Regions from separate parts of the Homo sapiens genome. Here region 2 is linked to region 1. Evidence: fine-mapped expression QTL. Tissue or cell type: testis. Region 1 holds a variant in brackets; the other region holds the start of a gene. All regions are shown on one strand. Distances are between the middles of the regions.

Evidence for each region. PIP is the estimated chance that this variant, and not a neighbour inherited with it, causes the effect.
Region 2: LINC02395 starts here. The variant in region 1 is the best candidate, but not a certain one, in a credible set for the expression of LINC02395 in testis (GTEx, PIP 0.74).

The regions. Positions count from the first base shown.
Region 1 is chr12:49,916,111-49,926,401 of GRCh38, reverse strand. It overlaps LINC02395 (long intergenic non-protein coding RNA 2395), which reads right to left. Exons shown (of 6, transcript NR_110048.1): 2 at 2,721-4,476; 3 at 1,889-2,620; 4 at 1,315-1,466; 5 at 1,014-1,140; 6 at 63-321. Among named protein-coding and RNA genes, the nearest start is that of LINC02395, 9.3 kb to the right of the region's middle. The variant A/G (reference allele first, on the strand shown) is at 5,414.
Region 2 is chr12:49,905,624-49,915,065 of GRCh38, reverse strand. It overlaps LINC02395 (long intergenic non-protein coding RNA 2395), which reads right to left and starts at 3,113. Exons shown (of 6, transcript NR_110048.1): 1 at 2,983-3,113. LINC02396 (long intergenic non-protein coding RNA 2396) reads left to right here and starts at 3,203. Exons shown (of 2, transcript NR_146570.1): 1 at 3,203-3,252; 2 at 5,953-6,184.

The DNA.
Region 1 (10,291 bases):
GAATTGTTTTGGTTCCATTTTTATGATCCCTCTCCAACAATATTCCAGGCATCCCAACACCATTGATTGAATATTGTATTTTCTCCATTGAGTTGAGTGGACATGTTTGAATCTTTCACTAAAGTTCTGGAGCCCCTTCCCTAGCTTAAGGTTCCTTTTGGCTTTAATGTGTCAGGGTGGATGCCGACCCATTGGAAGAGACAGGCATGGATGTGGAGTAAGGGAAAGAGGTAGAGCAGGGAGCAGAGGCTCTAACCTCTGTACCATCAGCTTGATGAGTGATCTTAACACATCATTTCTGCTTTCTGGGCCTCCGTTTCTCTGTAGAATGAGTAGAGAAGACCAGTTATTTTCTAAGGCCTCTTCCAGTTTGAATACTGTTTGATTCTAGGGATTGCAGAGAGCAAGTGTGTGGGAGTGACAGAGCAGGAACTGAAAATGAGACATCCATGGTATTTGTCAGTCTCTTCTTTGCCGGTCCTGCCCTCTCCCACCATCCACCACCCCTCACCCCCCAGCTCCCCTGTCCAAGGCCCAGGGGCCTGGGAACCAACCAGACCTTAGCCCTGGCAGGGGAGGGCAAGTCCCAAGAGAAGCTACTGATTGGGGGACAGCAGGCAGAGGACACAGTCCCCTGAAATATGCTGAGAAAGCCAGCCCTGTGCCAGCACCACTAGAGTCTAATCACCTCCAAGGCCCTAGACCCATCCCAAGAGAGGAAGGGCTGGGTAGGACCGGAAAGCGCCACTCCGAAGGTGGGATGTGACTGTAGGAACACACACATGCACACACACACACACACATGCACGCATATGCACACATGCACGATACACACACACATGCACGCATGCACACACATGCACACACACATACACACACATGCACGCATATACACACACACATGCACACATGCACGCACACACGCATACACACACACATGCATGCACACATCATCCCAGGATGCATACACACAAAAGGGGGCAAAATTACTTGGGCTTTGCAGTGAGACAGACCTCCGTTCAAATCCCTGCTCCACCACTTAATCTGTATGATCTTGGCAAGGTATTTAAATTCCAGAGCGTCCTCGAGAATGAACTTTGCAGGATTTTTGTGACAACTCAGTGAATCCTAACACAGTGCCTGGGACACAGTAGGAGGCCACTTTAGGATATTCTGTGTCCCCTCCTGCTCCCTCTTTCTCTGTCCTAGATGCTTGAGTCTTTGATCAGGCCATAGCATGGTGCAATAGAAAGAGATCTTGGCCCTGGGGTCAGACCACCCTGCATTTGAATCCCACCCATGCAGCTTCATTACCTCACATCCATAGAGCACTCGGCATGGCGCCGGGCCCACAGTGGGCACACAACAAGTGGTGTAAATACTACTGCTAGGTTCATCTTCAATGAGCCCAGGAGCTTACTGAGGCCAGCATCCAGGTAGGACCAGGTAGGACAGGGTGTTCAGGCCTGGAGAGAAGAAGGCGTGAGTCTGAGGGATTCACTAACAAAGGCTTAAGACGATCATGCAGTAATGATCCGATGGCCCCACTGGGAGTCTTGACACTGACTCATCCTCATGTTCGATTCAGTTCTAGGCAGCCTTCACAGAGCCATTTCCTGGCCTACACCCCTGTCATTCCCAGCCAGTCAATAAGCCACCATCAATAAGGCTGCCAGATAAAATCTAGGACACACAGTTACATTTGAATTTCAGATAAATATTGAGTTTTTTTTGATATAAATGTGTCCCAAATATTGCATAGGGCATACTTATGCTAAGAAATTCTTATCTGAAATTCAAATTTAACTGTGCGTCCTATATTTTTATTTGCTAAAGATGGCACCCCTAGCCACTTGATCACCCACCACTTATAATAGTAATGACTTACATTTGTGAACACTTAAGCGACCATTACATCAGCTGCGTGCCGCCCTTTGCAGTCAAGGTCACGTCCACTAGCTGGTACATCCCTCCTTTGAAGAGGTGGCACATGACATTGTGGCGAGGGGACGTGCAGGCACTGCTGAGCCTCCTCAGCTCACTGAGGAGGCCCGGGGGGGCACCGGGCTCACTGGGAGTGGATGGGAGCCCTTAGTCAGCAATATCATTATTATTACCTGCCTTTAACAAGCAAAAAAACTGCAGTGCATTCATTTAACAAACGTGTACTAAGCCTGGTGCTTTTCAAGGCCTGAGAGGAGAGGTTAACTGATGTGCACAGTCCCCCGGCTGGTGGATGATGGCCAGCTGAACTCTGCAATCCTAGGCGGAGGCGGTCAAATGATTCTCCACCCTCTCCATCATGCCAATGCTGGAGAATCCCCAGCAATACATTGCAAGTGTGTCTGAATCTTCTGTGTATGTGTTCGTCTCCCTCCCCAGCCGGCTCCACTCCTCTTACCTCACTCCAGGCTGGGAGCCCCAGTGGCTAGAGACAGTCTTATTAACCTTAGGATTCCACTGAGGAGCTCAGAGTGGGTGCCCAGTAATTACAGGGAGTTATTGACGGGGGTCCCCTCTTTACCAAGCCACTGCTTCCTTGGGACCAGGGGCATGACACTGGTTACATACTTCCCACGGCCCTGCTCTTCTTCCTTCAGGTCACAAATTCCGAGGGCCTCTGGAAGGAGTCAAGAAAGGAAGGGCAGATACTTGGGTGGGACAGAAGAGGAGAGGTTGAAGACAGGATTAAGGCGGTAAAATACAAAACACATACTTACACAAATAACATTGTTTTGGCATCAGCAGTGCTGGCATTTACTGTGATGGGTGGGTCCCTAAAATTAAAGTTGATTGGGGAAGGGGTCAGGGCAGGGACAGGTTCAGAGTCAAGATACTCAGGGCAGTGCTGAATGAGTCTTAGAACACTAGCACGTAGGAGCAGCATTCCACAGCTGGCCCCTGCCCCTCACCCCACCCCAGCCCTTGGCCACTCCGCTCCAGCCACGCTGGCCACCCTGCCTGCGTGCTCCCTGTCAGGGCCTTTGCTCTTGCTGTTGACTGCTTGGAATGCTCTTCCCCCAAATGTCACTCAGTTGGCTCCCTTGCTTTTTCCAGTCTCCTTCTCAACAAGGCCAGCCCTGCCCATCCTGCTGAGTCCTGGAACTGCCACATCCCTGCCCTCCTCACCACCTTGCCTAGCACCGCTTTCCCCTGTCCACAGTATCTCTAACTTCTAGAACTTTTTGTTATTTTGCTCACTGATGTATCCTAACATTGCAGAATGGCACCTGGCATGGTGTGTGCTCAGTAAACATGTGTTGTGTTGAATTTGTTGAACTGAATCTGGAAGGACCTTGATCATCTAGTTATTTCTAACCAGGTGTGCTTTCCGAGTTTCCGGTGGAACTTGTCAAAACACCCCAATCAGAGTCCCTACCCCAGACCTCCCGAGTCAGCTTGAGGAGCTCCCCAAGGTTTCATATATTAAAAATCCCTTCTCTGGTGCAGTCTCCCCTCTTAGCAACTGGCTTGCCAAGGCTCCCAGAGGGCCCGCTCCGTCCAAGGTCACTGCATAGTTGGGGGCTGAGCCAGCAATCCCACAGTTCTCTCCACTTGGAGCCCATTCCAGCTCTTCAGGCGGATTGGACAGCACCTCCTAGGCCAGTCTGGGGGACCCTCAGTCCAGAACACTCATTATCAGAGAGAGTGCCTGGCACTGTTGTTCTCTGTTTAGTTTCCTCCCAGCCCAGTGCCTAGCACATAGCTGGAGCTCCATGATTTGCTTTTATTGTTTTCTGTCTTATTCTTGGTGAGCAGATATGCCTGGGCCTCGGTCCAGTTGATCTTCATTTCACGTTCTCCAGTGAGCTGAGCAGGCACAGGGCTGGAGAAGTGAGGAACGGAAGGATGCCCCTGCCTTTCTCACTATGACCTGAGTTTCGAAGCAACGTCCTGTGACAACGAGAGAACTGGCTTGGGGCCAGTTGTCTATTGCTGTGTGGTCTGAGCCGGTCTCATAACCATTCTGTTTCCCAGCCTGTAAAATGTGGCTGGCACCCGGGGTGGACATGAGGATCCCACCTGCCAAGGTATTGCTGGAGGCTCACCATACAAACCCAAGGTTGCACTCTTGTTCAATGCCTCCTGTGGCACCCCTCTACCCAAGGACAAAGTTCATTTCCTTGGCCTGGAACCTGAAGTTCTTCCACCTTGGCCCCAGTCCCCAGCCCCTTGCCTCATCTGCTGGCACTCCTCTCTACACACCCTTCACTCTGGCCACTGTTAGTCACCACCCTGAACAGGCCACACCGTATCACACCTCCACACCTTTACACAAACCGTTCCTTCTGCTGGGAATGTCCCCTCCCTTTGCTACCCAGAGAATCGCAGCATCGCCAGCCTCTGCAACACCTTCCTGTTCTGTCTGTATCTGATGTGGAGGCCCGCAGCCCGGGTTACACCCCTGGCTCCACCACCTACCTGCTGAGTGACCTCAGGCAAAGTTCTCTACCCTCTCAGCCTCAGTTTCCTCATCTGCAAAATGGAGAAGATAACAAGACCATCCTTCAGGGTGTTGTAAAGATGAACTGAGATCATGTGGGACCTGGCCCCTTCCTGGCACACACGAGGTGTAAATGATGACTGTTAGTACTATCCTTAGTGTTCCTATCAATACCTCACTCTGCCCAACTGCACTCAGGATCTCTGCCCTCTAAGGTGACCCAAGGACCCCCCAGGCCAGCTGATTCTGGAGAAGCATGGGGATGGGGAGATTTCCTGCAGTCAGCCCTTTCTCTCTCTTTCCCTCCCTCCCTCCCTTCCTTTTTTCCTTCTTTCCTCCCGCCTTCCTTCCTTTTCCTTTCTTTTCTTTTCCTTTCTTTCTTTCTTTTTCTTTCTTTCTTTCTTTCTTTCTTTTTCTTCTTTCTTTTTCTCTGTTTCTCTCTCTCCCTCTTTCCTTCCTTCCTTCCTTTTTTTCCTTCCTTCTTTCCTCTCTCCGTCTCTTTCTTTCTTTCCTTTCTTCTTTCTTTCTTTTCCTTTCTTCTTTCTTTTTCTCTGTCTCTCTCTTTCTCCCTTCCTTCCTTCCTTCTCTCTCTCTTTCCCTGCACCCTGCCTACCGCCCCCCCACCCACAACTACAAGAGGATTTTGCTCTGTCACACAAGCTGGAGTGCAGTGGTAAGAACACAGCTCACTGCAGCCCTGACCTCCTGGGTTCAAGCAATCCTCCCTCCTCAGCCTCCTGAGTAGCTGGAACCACAGGCATGTGCCACCACGCCTAGCTAATTGTATTTATTTAATTTTTGGTAGAGGCGGGGGTAGAGGTGAAGGGTCTCACTACGTTGCCCAGGCTGAACTCCTGGCCTTAAGCAATCCTCCCACCTTGGCCTCCCAGCATTGATCAGCCCTTTCTGATTAATGAAACAATTAGGAGGAGAACCATAATGGCAATGGAAACAGAACTCACCAAGAAC[A/G]GCTGTGTTCTTATGCAAGGGTCTGGGTCACAGCAGGTGAGGGGGGAGTCTGGGGAAGGGGAGAGACTGCAGCTGCAATAGGGGTTGCACCCCCCACACGCCAGGCTTGACTGTGCTCCATCCCTGAGGGGAAGTGCCAGGGACGGCCCTGCTCACCTTCTGGCCTGGTCTTCCCATCTATCAGGGCCTGCAGGAGGGCATCACCATCACCCTCTCTCTTCTCCACAACAACCGCTAGAGGACAGTGGGCTGTGGAGTCAGACTGCCCCGGTTCAGGTCCCTGCCGCGCCCCTTTCTAGGTGTGTAACCTTGGACAAATTGCTCAACCACCTGTGCTTCAGTTTCTTCCTCATCTCTAAAGTGGGGACAATAATAACGACTCCTGCTTCACTGAACTGATAGGAGGATTAAATTGCCATCATGTCTTTAAGACGCTGAGCACGATGCCTGGAAGACAGTAAGCACTCAGGAAATGTTAGTTATTATTAATCATTTCCTTATCGGGGGGTGGGGAAATAGAAGGAAAGAGAAGTGAAGTAACTTGACCAAAGCCATCCAGCTTGTAAGTGGTGGAGCCAGGATTCCACCCACGGGTTGTTTGCCTCCAAAGCCAGAGTTCTCTCAATTTTTCTATGTTGTCCCTTGTAATCACCCTTACTCCCTAAACTTAAGCTGGAAAAACAATTTTTAAAAAATATCCTAACTGGCTGGGCGCAATGGCTCACAGCTGTAATTCCAGCACTTTGGGAGGCCGAGGTGGGCAGATCATGAGGTCAGGAGTTCGAGACCAGCCTGGGCAACATGGTGAAACCCCGTCTCTACTAAAAATACAAAAAGTTAGCCGGGTGTGGTGGCGGGTGCCTGTAATCTCAGCTACTCGGGAGGCTGAGGCAGGAGAATTGCTTGAACCCAGGAGGCAGAGGTTGCAGTGAGCCGAGATTGCGCCATTGTACTCCAGCCTGGATGACAGAGCAAGACTCCATCTAGACAAAAAAGAAAAACAAAATACCCTAACTATAATGGCAATGTGTTGAAACATTTCAAATGTATGTAAATCCATAAGTTTATGATAAAAATTAATGATCACTTTCAGAGATGCTAGGGAACTCGCTCATTATTTTGAAAACTATAGGATTTTCAAGCCTCTAGATTTAGGGATGCAATCAAACTCCAGACTCTGGGAAATTCTACAGCAAAAATGACCTGGTTTCCTCAACAAATACATTGTAAGGGTGGAAAAAGAGAAAAAGGGGACCTATAATTTAAAAGAGACTTAAGGCCGGGCGCGGTGGCTCACGCCTGTGATCCCAGCACTTTGGGAGCCTGAGGCAGGCAGATCACATGATGTCAGGAGTTTGAGACCAACCTGGCAAACATGGTGAAACCCCGTCTCTACTAAAAACACAAAAATTAGCTGGACATGGTGGTGCACATCCGTGATCCCAGCTACTTGGGAGGCTGAGGCACAATAATTGCTTGAACCTGGGAGGCAGAGGTTGCAGTGAGCCAAGATCCCGCCACTGCACTCCAGCCTGGGTGACAGAGTGAGATCCTATCTCAAAAATAAATAAATAAATAAAAGAGCCTTAAGGCACAGTGGCTCATGCCTGTAATCCCAGTGCTTTGGGAGGCTGAGGTGGGAGGATCGCTTGAGGCCAGGAGTTTGAGACCAGCCTGGGCAACATAGCAAGACCACGTCTCTACAAAAAATGAAAAAATTAAGCCAGGCATGAAAAGAAACAAAAAAGAGAGAGAGAGGCTTAAGAAGCATTAATCATTTGCAATACAGTATATGGACTTTATCTGAATCCTAATTTGAACAATTGTGTAAATGAGAAAACTGGAGAATTGGAACAGTGACTAAGTATTTAATATTAAATTATTGTTAGTTTTTTAGGCATAATAATAGTAGTATAGCTATTTGTTAAAGTCCTCTTCTCTTAGAGACGCATCTGAAATAGTTACAGATGAGATGGTACGATGTCTGAGATTTGCTTCAAAAGAACCCAGGGGGTATGGCTGGGCTAGAGATGAAGCTCAATTGGCCGTGAGTTGGTAATCAGTGAAGTGGGGTGATGAGCGCCTGGGGTTATTATATTACTCTCTCCACTTTTATATATGTTGGAAAACTTCCATAATAAAAAGTTAAAGAAAAATCTGAATGATGTAAAACCGTTTTGTCTTTATAACTGCTTCTAGGAATTGATCCTCTTGGAACCTCATTTCCCCAACTGCAAAGGGAACTAAACTGTGTCATGGTGATCACCAATGCCCAACACTCACTAGGTGCCAGGCACTGCTCCAAGAACTTGATTTGTTTTCAGTCAATCTCTGAACCACGCTATGGGCAGGGGACTTGTACTGTGCCCATTTTGGAGGAACCCAAGGTCTAAAGAAGTTAGTGGTGGGCTGGGTGTGCCGGCTCACACCTGTAGTCCTAGCACTTTGGGAGGCCCAGGTGGGAAGATCCCTTGAGCCCATGAGTTTGAGACCAGCCTGACCCATGTAGGGAGACCCGATCTTTACAAAAAAATTAAAATAAAAATAACTAGCCAGGTGTGGCGGTGCATACTGTGGTCCCAGCTACTTGGGACGCTGAGGTAGGAGGATTGTTTGGGGCCGGTAGGTCAAGGCTGCAGTGAGCCAGGATCATGCCACTGCACTCCAGCCTGGGCAGCAAAGCAAGACCCCATCTCAAAAAAAAAAAAAAAAGTTGATTAACTTACCCAGGGTTACACACAGCAGGTGGGCAGGTGGAGGAACTCTAGAGCCCTGCTGCTTATGTTGTACAATAGGCTGCCTCTCAGAGTACAGAGCTAACCGTGCATCCATGTGAGCCACTGTGGTGTCTTTTCTGCCTTCACAGGTCCTCCCCATGCTGCCACATCCCTACCTTGCCCACTGCTGGGCCAGAAGAGGCTTGCTAAGGGTGAGGACTGTGGAAACTTGCCTGTGGTACCTCACCTTGAGTCAATGTGTGTGAGGAAGGTGCTCCTGAGAGTCGCTGACCCATGACTTAGGCAAGGGTAGGGCCCCAGCTTGAAGTGCGGGCAGAACCGGGCCAGGTGGAGGCAGCTGCATGTTTACCTCCTTCCCTGGGCTGCCTGGGCAACCTTTACCATCCTGGCCTGAGTGTGGAGAGACCCACTGAAGTTTCTCCCAGGCGTGTGTGTGTGTGTGTGTGTGTTTGTGTTTGGGGAAGGAGCAGGCTGGAGCTCCAAGGCTGCCTGCAGGAGGGAGAAGAATCTACTCCTTTGAAGGGGCTCAGAGGGGCAGGAGGCTGGATGTGATGACCCCAGGTGTCCTCACTGCCTGTTCCCAGCTGTCTCCAGCTACTGGGAAGTGCATATGTGGGTATAGAGTGTGGCCACCCCGCTCTCTGGGAGATTATAGCCTAAAGGATTTAAGGATTAAAATCTCCAAACACCCTGCACCCTGGAACCATCCAGGCAGGACTGGCACCATCTCAGCACAGTTCTTTGCTGTCTGGATTCTCTCCCCATTCTATCCCTCACTCACTCATTAATTCAGTGCATGTTTGCAAGCACTCGCTCTATGGCAGGCGCTGCGTTTGGCCCCGAGGGCGTGGCGATGAATAAAGCACGGTCTTATTTCTCCCAGGTTGCTCACAGTCTATTAACAGGGAAATATGAGAGTGGAGGAGAAAATATCTGCTCCACGCGCCCCTCTTCCCAGGAGCCTGGTCAGGCTTAGTTGTGCAGCCCCCTCACATTCCTCCTGTCTCCAGCCTGGTCTGGATTGATCCTTCTCCCACATGTCACAGTCCCTCCCATCCGAGTCTCCCCATAACATCGCCCTGTGGGTTTGCCCTCCAGAGAGTGGGGAATGGTTCAGTCTAGATCAGCATAGTTCAACAGAAAGAAAAATAACATGAGACATAAATGTGAGTTACACACATAATTTAACTTGTTTTGGGCTGGGCGTGGTGGCTCAGGCCTGTAATCCCAGAAATTTGGGAGGCTGAGGCGGGCAGGTCACGTGAGCCCAGGAGTTCGAGACCAGCCTGGGCAACATTGAGAGATCCTGCCTCTACAAAAAATACAAAAAAAAAAAAAAATTAGCTGGACATGGTGGCATGTGCCTGTAGTCCCAGCTACTCGGGAGACTGGGGTAGGAGGATCACTGGAGCCAGAGAGGTCAAAGCTGCAGTGAGCTGTGACCATGCCAGTGCACTCCAGCCCGGGTGACAGAGCAAGGCCATCTCCATAAATAAATAAATAAATAAATAAATAAATAAATAAATAAATTTTAATAGTCACATAAAAAAATATATAAAGAACAGGTAAAGTTAATTTTAATAACATTTTATTTAACCCAACATACCTAAAATGCGATCACTTCAACATGTAATCAATATAAAATTATAAATAAGATAGTTTGTATCTGCTTTTCATACTGTCTTTGAAATCCAGCGTGCATTTCACATTGATAGCACATCTCAACTTGGACTAGCTGAATATTAAGTGCTGACTAACCACACGTGGCTAGTGGCTACCACATTGGACAGAACAGATCTAGATTATCAATTCTGGGATCTGGTCCTCTTTACCTAGTTTTGGAGCTGGAAACACAACTCCATTATCCAAGCAACAGGCTCCACCTCCCCAGGAGAATTTGCCAGGAAGAAGGGAGGCTGCAGCCTTGTGTCCCTGCCCAGAACTCCAGCCTGTGGTGCCAGGCAGGAAAATGGGCTGAGGCTGGGCCAAGGGTGTGGCCCATTAACCAATCAGAGAGCTAAGAAGTAGGGGGTCTGGGAAGCTCAAGGGTCCCACCTGAGCTTCGTCCGGAAGTGAGCTCCATCACTTCTGATTTGGGTATGTAAAGAGCTTGTAGACGCCACACCCTTGCTCTGCTGTC
Region 2 (9,442 bases), 11 kb after region 1:
TAGCCGGGTGTGGTGGCAGGTGCCTGTAGTCCCAGCTACTCAGGAGGCTGAGGCAGGAGAATGGCGTGAACCCACGAGGCGGAGCTTACAGTGAGCCGAGATTGCGCCACTGCACTCCAGCCTGGGCGACAGAGCAAGACTGTCTCAAAAAAAAAAAAAAATTATGAACATGTCTTAACTACATATATAATGGGAAAAATTAATTTGTTTAATATACATTTTTAAAAGCCTTACCTGGTCTTCAAAGACCAGTTAAAATGCCAACTTCCCTGAGGGTTTCTGAGACCTCGGTCTCCATTGCTTTACTCTGCTGTGGTCCTTCCTTACTCCACAGCCTGCCTGGTACTGAGTTTAACCTGGGCCTGTCCTATCTCTTCTCTAGCATCTTGAGGGTGGGGCCTGGCACAGTGTCAGCCACCCAGTAGGGGTTCTCTCTGCATTGTGGACTGAATGACTGAGGCCAGCTACAGCCAAAAGGCTCCAACTGGGCCCCTGGGTCGGCTCATGCTCTGGCCTCTCTCCAGAAAAAGTCTGCAAATCTCTTTCACCCCAGAGACTGTCAGCTGCTCAGGGAAAGGTCTTTTTGAAAATGCAGCTGATCAAACGCTTGCAACAGGCCCTGAGACATCTCCCAGATCTCGCTGTCACAAGTGCTCCAGAGGACAGGCTTCACAGCCTCGACTACACAGACACTGCTGAAATATTTACGAGGCTGCTGGCTTGTGAAACAGCTTTGGCTGGGGAGAAAGGGTAGGGATGTGGCGCTTGTTAAGTACCTGGACGTGTCACACCTCACACCGTGCAGGGAGCCTCCTGGCTCAGTGAAGGAGCTGCCATTAACCTCACCTAACCTCACTGGCAGGCTGAGACCCCAAGTTCCTGAAGCAGTACGGCATAGAGGCTGAGAGCTGGGCTCTGGGGGCTGACTGCAGGGCTGGGCAGCTGGCCCCATCACCTGCCAGTTGTAGGCAACCTTGGGCAAGTTACTTAACCTCTCTAAGTCCCAGTTTCCTGTCTATAAAATGGAGATGAGAAAGAGGACCTGCCACTGTTGGGAGGATTAAACAAAACAATCCACGTAGCATCCTTAGCATGGGACCTAGCATATGTTAAGTGCTGCATAAATGGCAGCAATTCTTACCATTATCAACCCAGTCAAACAAGAGTGAAGGGGCTTGGGAAGGAGCCAAAGCCACTCACTAGCAATGGCAACCCTCCAGGAATGGGCCGGACCCTCCTCTGTCTTCCTCATGTCCACTCAAGCTGGAAACCTCTCCCTCTCTCTCACCTTCTACCGCCAGGCAGCCCTTCACCAGATCCCCCCTTAAACAGCCCCTGAATCTGTGAATTTTATCCACCTTCAATGCCCAACACAAGCCCAGGCCACCATCACCTCTCCCATAATGGCAGCGGTAGCTTCCGCGTGTCTCTTCTCTGTCCTGCAGCCAGGGGGGCTTCTAAAATGGCCAATCTGGGCTGGATGCGGTGGCTCACACCTGTAATCTCAGCACTTTGGGAGGCTGAGGCAGGTGGATCACTTAAGGTCAGGAGTTCCAGACCAGCTTGGGCAACATGGTGAAACCCTGTCTCTACTAAAAATACAAAAATTAGCTGGGCATGGTGTGCATGCCTGCAATCCTAGGTACTCGGGAGGCTGAGCCACAAGAATTGCTTGAACCCAGGAGGCGGAGGTTGAACTGAGCTGAGATCGTACCACTGTACTTCAGCTCCAGCATGGGTGACAGAGTGAGACTGTCTCAAAATAAATGAATAAATAAATTAATTAATTAATTAAATGGCCAATCTGAGTGGGTGCCCACCCCTTCAACCTCCCTTACTCTGTAACTTCCCAAAGCCCTCCCCTGTCCACAAGGCTGGCATGATCTGCCTGATGCCCCAGGTACTTCCCCATCTTACAGCCTTTGCACAGGTGTTCCCTCTGTTTAGAACACTCATCCCCTCGCCAACCCCACCTCATCACTCGGGGCTGCTGGAGGCCTCCCCCGGACGTGCTCCTCCACCCATCTGCATTACTGCCCTGTTATTCTTCCACAAGGCAGCTTGGGCTTTGGCTTTGAGGCACTCGCCATGTGTGATTCTGCACTCCAGCATGTGGCTATTTACTTAAGACCTGCTTCCCCCTCTAGACTGTGAGCTCCTGGAGGGCGGGGAGGGGGTCTCTTGCTTGCTTCTGCTCTCCTAGCTCACGACATGACTCTCAGGCTGGGCTGGAAACACTTGGTTGAATAAATGAGTTCTGGTCCCCACCCAAGCACACAAGGAGTGACCCACACTGCTGCCGGGCCAAACTGCACTGAAAAATGGCATTGCTGTGTGGACGTGGCCCTGCCCACGTCCCGCAGGCAGAGCAGGAAGGGCTGAGGAGCCCTGGCCAGGCAAAGGGAGGTCATGGACACAGCACCGACACCTGCCCACCCCTTTCCAGTGACCCAGTCCTGCCTCCCACAGCCGAGCAGTGCTCTGTCAGTATGGATGGCCTGGACAAGTAGGGTAATGCAAGAGGCCTGGCAAGTTGAGGGCTCTGGCCCCTGGCCCCGCCTGGCTCTCCGCTGTTCCCAGCTGTCTTTTCCTCATCACTCCCTCCTTGGCCCAGACTTATCCTTTCATGTTATTCCTCTGGGGATGGTCTGTCTCCTACTGGAGGCTTACTCAAGGAAATGAATTTTTAGTGGTGGAATATTGAGCCTGTTATAGTCTCGGCCAAGGGTAGACGGCTGGGAAGGGGGTCCCTCAAACCCCACCTCTTAGACAGTTGCCTCCTGTCCCTGTGAATACAGCTGCTTTGCCTGGATCAGCCTCCAACCTCACTCTGGGCTAGGCCACCTTCTTCCTAGGATTCAGCTCAAAGTTGGCGCCTCATGTTTTCCTTCCTCCACGCCTTCATTTGCACACCATTCTGGTCCCCTGCAGGGCCTCATTCTCCTCCCCCAACATCACTGTCTCTTGTCTGTTGAAGCCTACCCTTTAAGATGCAGTTCAAAAACCACCTCTCCTTCAGGCCAATCCTTTTCAATCTCCCAATCAGATATAACTTCTTCTGAATCCTCCAAAAGCACAGTACTGATAACCTTCAATCATATATGGCTTTGTCTGAAGGATACTGGGGGACAAACAGCTGTCTCTGTTGTACCTGACATTCTAGAATGTCATGGTTCTTTGTTGCATGTAATACAAGTTGGTGCTGGTTATAAGCTTCTGAACAATGATGAGGATGGTGGCATTTGACATTCGGTAGGTGCATTCGACTATAAGTTCCTTGAGGGTGTGGATGAGAGTTCCACGTCTTTGTCTCCCTAGCACCTAGCATGGTGCCGGCACACAGTAAATTCTCAGCAAATGGTTCTGTGGTTCAGAATGGATGTTCACAATAATGGCTCTAACTTGTCAGGCCTGTCGTATGCCAGGCTGACATATGACGTATGTGCTGAGCCCTGTCCAAATGTCATCTCACTGAGTTTTCACAATCACTCTCTGGGCCAGGCACCAATAGTCTCCACTAAGAAGTAACCCCACAGGGCCGGGATTTGTGTCTGTTGTGGTCACTGTTGTACACACATCAGTGTTTGACATGGAGTTGGCCCTCATAAATATTGTTTGAATAAGTAAATCAGTTCATGGATACCCATTGTAAAGATGAGGAAACTGAGGCTCAGATTTACCTAAGGTCAATCATCTAGTAACTGGGAGAGTCAGAATTGGCACCCAGATTGATCTGACCCCAAACCCTGTATTCTTCAATATTGAACTCTACCAGGTCAAGGGATGGAGCAGGAAGGCTTGAGATACACAACCCATATCTTTAAGGCACTTTCCATCTGGTGGAGAAACGGAAATGTATGCACATAGCGGCACATGCGATGGCAACAGAACCCGTGAGACCCTGGGGAAAGAACTGACTTTTCGAGGGCCTGCTGCAAGGGAGGGGCTAAGCCTGGCCTAGAACTTTAGTTACCTGAAAACTTGATTTTTTTGTGTTATTCTAACGTGCAGAGGGCCTGTGCCAGGCCTACCAAGGAGTGAGCTGATGCGGCTGAGAGTTTTGGAATGTGAGGCTGGGATGACAAGCCTGGGGCCTGGCTCTTCTGTGCTCAGTGAGGACTGCTCCAGCCTCAGCCCCAACTCCCAGCAAAGCCCAGGTGTGGGGAGCAGGGGAGGTGAGACAGAGATGAGGAGGGACAGAAATGTGGTTTCACACCTGACCCAGCAATTCCTGCAGCTGGGAAGCATGGCGACTCAGAATGCCGATGCCTGCCCGAGGCTTCGGCTTCTTGTCCCGCGTTTTGGAGACCATATCTGGAGAGGCACAGTGTGAGGGGCATGGGGAGGCAGGAGTAGGACTGCAGCAGAGAGGGGTTTTGCAACCAGCCTCTGGCTGGTCAGCACAGGAGTGTCAGGTTCTTTGCTGTGGGGCTGCTGGGGATGAGAGAGGCAGGAAGAACCCCTGTGAAGAACAGTGAGAAGGGTAGGGGCCAGGGGCCTGCAGGGTGATGGCAGGCTTTGAAGGGTGTGAAAGGCTGCCACAGCTGAGGCCCGGCTATACCCAGGAGGGAGCAAGCAGCCTGATGCCTGAGCTGGCCTGGCCCATTCACCTCTTGTGGCCCAACCTGAGAACCTTCTTACTGTGGGTGAGCTGGGCCTTGTCTAGCCCCTGCCTCTGCGCCCCCATCACTGGCCTCAAAAGCACAGGTTCTCTCTTTTCTTGCACGGTGAGGAGGCAGAGAGTGGTGCAGGCTGGGTGTGCGGGTCTGTGTGTCAGGGGGTTATTGGTGAGAATCTGGGGAGAGGCGCCTGGATAGCTCTGATTCTACCCACCTAGGAGGTCTGAGACCCTCCCAACTCCTCCCCGACTCCCAGCCTCAGTGTTGTCGCTGAAACCCTCTTGAGCTGATGGTGCCTACGCGGGGTCAAATGCATTCTTCTCACCGGCCTCGGCCCCAACGTGTCATGTAACCTCGTGTTAGTCACTCAACCTCTTTGGCCTTGTGCTTCCACATCTGTAAAATGAGAAGTTGCCTCCGCCCACACCTTTGCCCCTCCCCACCGCCAACCCACACTTGCCCCAGACAGAGCTGGCAACAAAAGCAGACTGCGGAGTGGGAGGGACTGCCATGGCGTGGGCCTGGAAGGAGGAGAGAGGCAATGCCTGCGGCCAGACCTTCGCTCCCCTCAGAGCAGCCCTGAAAATATTCCCGGCTGGTCTTTGCCTCTCCACGGTCACAGCAGCCTCGTGATGAAGATGGCAGGGGGAATTCTACAGAGAGGACAGGACTTCCTTCCATCTTCTCCTGCTCATAGCTGCTGCCTGGGATCCACTCATCCCCTTCTTCTCTCCTTGGCCTCACTCTGCAGTGGGGGTGCTCACTGACTCCAGGGTTCAGCCACTGTCTGCATGCTAATGAGCTAAGGAGTCCCACACCTCCACCACCAGCCCAGCACTCAACTCCATGGGCCCCAGGGCTGGGCCCCAGGGCGGGAAGGGATGTGGTCCTCCCCCTGAACACAGTGCATGGTGCCTCCTGGGGCTGCGCAGGGAGGAGGCCTTGCCCGGACCTCTCTCCTGGGCACCAGGAACCTCTGGCCAACTGCCTACAGGACATCTCCACCTGGATGTCCTACAGGCCCTCAAACTCAACCTGACCCCCGCCCAAGCACCTCAGCTCCTTTCCCTTTTCATAATGGTATCATTCTCCCAGGGACTCAGTCTTCACACCTTTGCCCTTTTTGATGCCCCTTCTGCCTTTCTCTCACTTCTACTGTCTTCCCAAGTCCTGTCGGTCCTGTCCCATGCTGTCCCTTTTCTCCATCTTTTCTGCCCCTGGATCACGTGTCTTATTTTCTAGTGATCAAACATGTTTACAGCATGTGTTAGATGGCTGGCTCTGCTCTAAGTGCCTTACAAATCCTAACTCTCCTCATTCTCACAACCTTCAGTTTACAGAGGATGAAACTGAGGCACAGAGAAGTCAAGCGTCTTGTGCAGGGCCAGGATTGGGACCCACGCAGCCTGCTCCAGAGCCGGGCTCTGACCCTCCACAAGAGCCATCACTAAAGTTCCACTTACCGCTGCACCTTCAATCTCTTCCTCTCTCCATCCCTCCCACATGTTCACAGACAAAATCTTCTTCCTTATTTAATAAAACAATATAATGACCAGCCTGGCAAACATGGTGAAACCTCACGTCTACTAAAAATAGAAAAATTAGGCCTGGCGTGGTGGCTTACGCCTGTAATCCCAGCACTTTGGGAGGCCAAGGTGGGTGGATCACCTGAGGTCAGGAGTTCGAGACCAGCCTGGCAAACATGGTGAAACCCCGTCTCTACTAAAAATACAAAAATTAGCTGGGCATGATGGTGGTGACTATAATCTCAGCTACTTGAGAGGCTGAGGCAGGAGAATCGCTTGAACCCAGGAGACAGAGGTTGCAGTGAGCGGAGATCGCACCACTGCACTCCAGCCTGGGTGAGAGAGTGAGACTCCACCTCAAAAAAAAAAAAAAAAGAAAAAAAGAGAAAACAATGTAATAGCAAAAATTACTACAGAGGTTGGTCTTTCTTATCTTTTTTTTTTTTTTTTTTTTTTTTGAGGCTGAGTTTCACTCTTATTGCTCAGACTAGAGTGCAGCAGTGCAATCTTGGCTCACTGCAACCTCTGCCTCCCAGGTTCAAGCGATTCTCCTGCCTCAGCCTCCCGAGTAGCTGGGATTACAGGCATGTGCCACCACATCCAGCTAATTTTTTTTTATTTTTAGTAGAAACGGGGTTTCGCCATGTTGATCAGGCTGGTCTCGAACTCCTGACCTCAGGTGATCCATCCACCTTGGCTTCCCAAAGTGCTGGGATTACAAGCATGAGCCACTGCGCTTGGCCTGGTTGGTCTTTCTGAAGCATGACTTTAAACACGTCATTTCCATGTTCAATAAAACCTTGAGGCCAGGCACAGTGACTTACTCCTGTAATCCCAGCCTTTGGGAGAGCGAGGTAAAAGGATCGGTTGAGCCCAGGAGTTCGAGGCCAGCCTGGACAACATAGTGAGATCTTGTCTGTACAAAAAATAAAATTAACCAGGCATGGTGGTGCAGGCCTGTAGTCCCAGCTACTTGGGAGGGTAAGATGGGAAGATCGCTTGAGCCTGGGAGGTTGAGGCTGACGTGAGCCATGATTGTGCCACTGCATTCCAGCCTGGGCGATAGAGTGAGATTCTGTCTCAAAAATTAAATAAATAATAAAATAAAATAAAGCTTGAAACTCCCCATTACTTTCCCGCCTTGTACAAACAGAATAAAGCCTATCATGGGGTGGAGATTTGAGGATGTTACCCCAACAACCTCCCCAGCTCCCCTGGGGAGCCCCTTACTGTTTCTGACTCCCTTGAGGCACTATTCTCCCAGCCCTCAGCCACCCCAGCACTGCCTGTCCCCTCCTGCCCGGGGGTGAGTCTGAAGGGATCTCATTCTTCTTGAAGAATGGCTTCTACCAAATGTGTCAACAGGGACAGAGACCACAGACATGACAAATGAATGAACAAATGAGTAACTGTGGAACTGAGCTGCCTTATGTGGTGGAAATTATTTCATTAAACAATATTTGTGGAACCCTTAAGGCTAACACTAATAGCTAACACCAAGAGCTTATTGTGTGCTTATAGTCATCAAACATGCATAGAGCATGTGTTAGATGCCTGGTTCTGTTCTAAGTGCCTTACAAATCCTAACTCTCCTCATTCTCACAACTTTCACAACTCATCTCTCACAAGCTCTCATACAGCTTTTAAATAGAGGAGCCGGGATCTGGAGCAAAGCTGCTTGACTGTGTAGCCTTGGCTTTTGACTACCACACCTAACTATCACCAGATCCCAGAGGAATGTTACACGAATGTTTAATATTTGAGTAATGTCAGCTGGGCACGGTGGCTCATGCCTGTAATCCCAGCACTTTGGGCGGCTGAGGCGGGCAGATCACCTGAGGTCAGGAGTTCGAGACCAGCCTGGCCAACGTGGTGAAATTCTGTCTCTACCAAAAATAGGAAAAGTAGCCAGGCGTGGTGGTGTGCGCCTGTAGTCCCAGCTACTCAGGAAGCTGAGGCAGGAGAATCGCTTGAACCTGGGAGGCGGAGGTTGCAGTGAGCTGAGATCGTGCCACTGCACTCCAGCCTGGGCAACAAGAGCAAAACTACACCTCAAAACAAAAATTTTTTTGAGTAATATCCAAAGACCACCTCATGGGAACATATACCCTAGTTACTTGGGAGGCTGAGGCAGGAGGATGCTTGAGCCCAGAAATTCAGACTGTAACAAGCCATGATCATACCACTGCACTCCAGCTTAGGCAACACAGCGAGACCCTGTCTCAAAAAAAAGTTGGGGGGACATATACACAATGTCAAGGTAATAGAGTCCAACATCTGAGAAACATCATAGCACTGACAATGTCAACATGTCTGAGGAATATAAGGATTTTGTATAATGCTGTACTTTACTCAACCAAATACTTATCAACCCACCACATCCATGTCAGTCACTATTTTAACCCACAGGTGTAAAGCAATGACACAACACCCCCAAACTCCTCCTCTTCTGTAGCTGACGTTCTAATGGGAGAGAGAGAGAGAACAAAACAAAACAAAACAAAACATGTCAGAGGTGACAATTGACATAGAAAACATAAAGCTTAATCAGAAAAAAGGGACTGTCCAATTTGCTGGGTGGGGGTATGCGGGTGGCACTGCTACTTTGTATAAGATCAGGAAGACCACCCCTGAGATAATGTCTGAGCAGAGTAGTGAAGTTAGTGAGGGAGGGAGCCACGCAATGATCTGTAGAATTTCCAAACAAGACACAGCCAGTGCAAAGGGCCTCAGCTAAGCGCATGCTCAGCCCAGTCTAAGGAATGGCCAAGAGGCCTGTGTGGCTGGAGCAGAGTGAATGCGAGAGAAGGAACAGGAGTGATTCACAAACATGAAAGTGCTAAGGCTGATGAAAGTCAGGCTCTGCGTAGTGCCATGTCTGGGAAATATTACTAGCTACAATTGATGGAGTGCATTCCACACACCTGGCACTGCATTCAGTCCAGCTCACACCAAAACTGCTACAGGAGCTTAGAGTGTAACAGGGAGTCAGTCAAAGAAACTTCACAGCGCCACGTGACAGGCGTTACATCAGGGTGCTAGGGAACTACAGAAGAGGAGCATCTAACCCCAACTAGGGGGGGAAGGAGGCTTCCTGGAGGAGGTGGCATTCAAGCTGTCAAGCAGGAGAAGGAAAACACTTCCAGGATGCAGATGCAGAGAAGGAGGGAAGGCCAGAACCTGGACCAGCTGGTCAGAGCTCCAGGTGCAGTGCTGGGGACCAGGGCACAGCTTGCTGGAAGAAGAGCTCGGGTTTGTAGGGTTGAGAGAGCCTCTGGACACGGAGGCCCAGGCTTA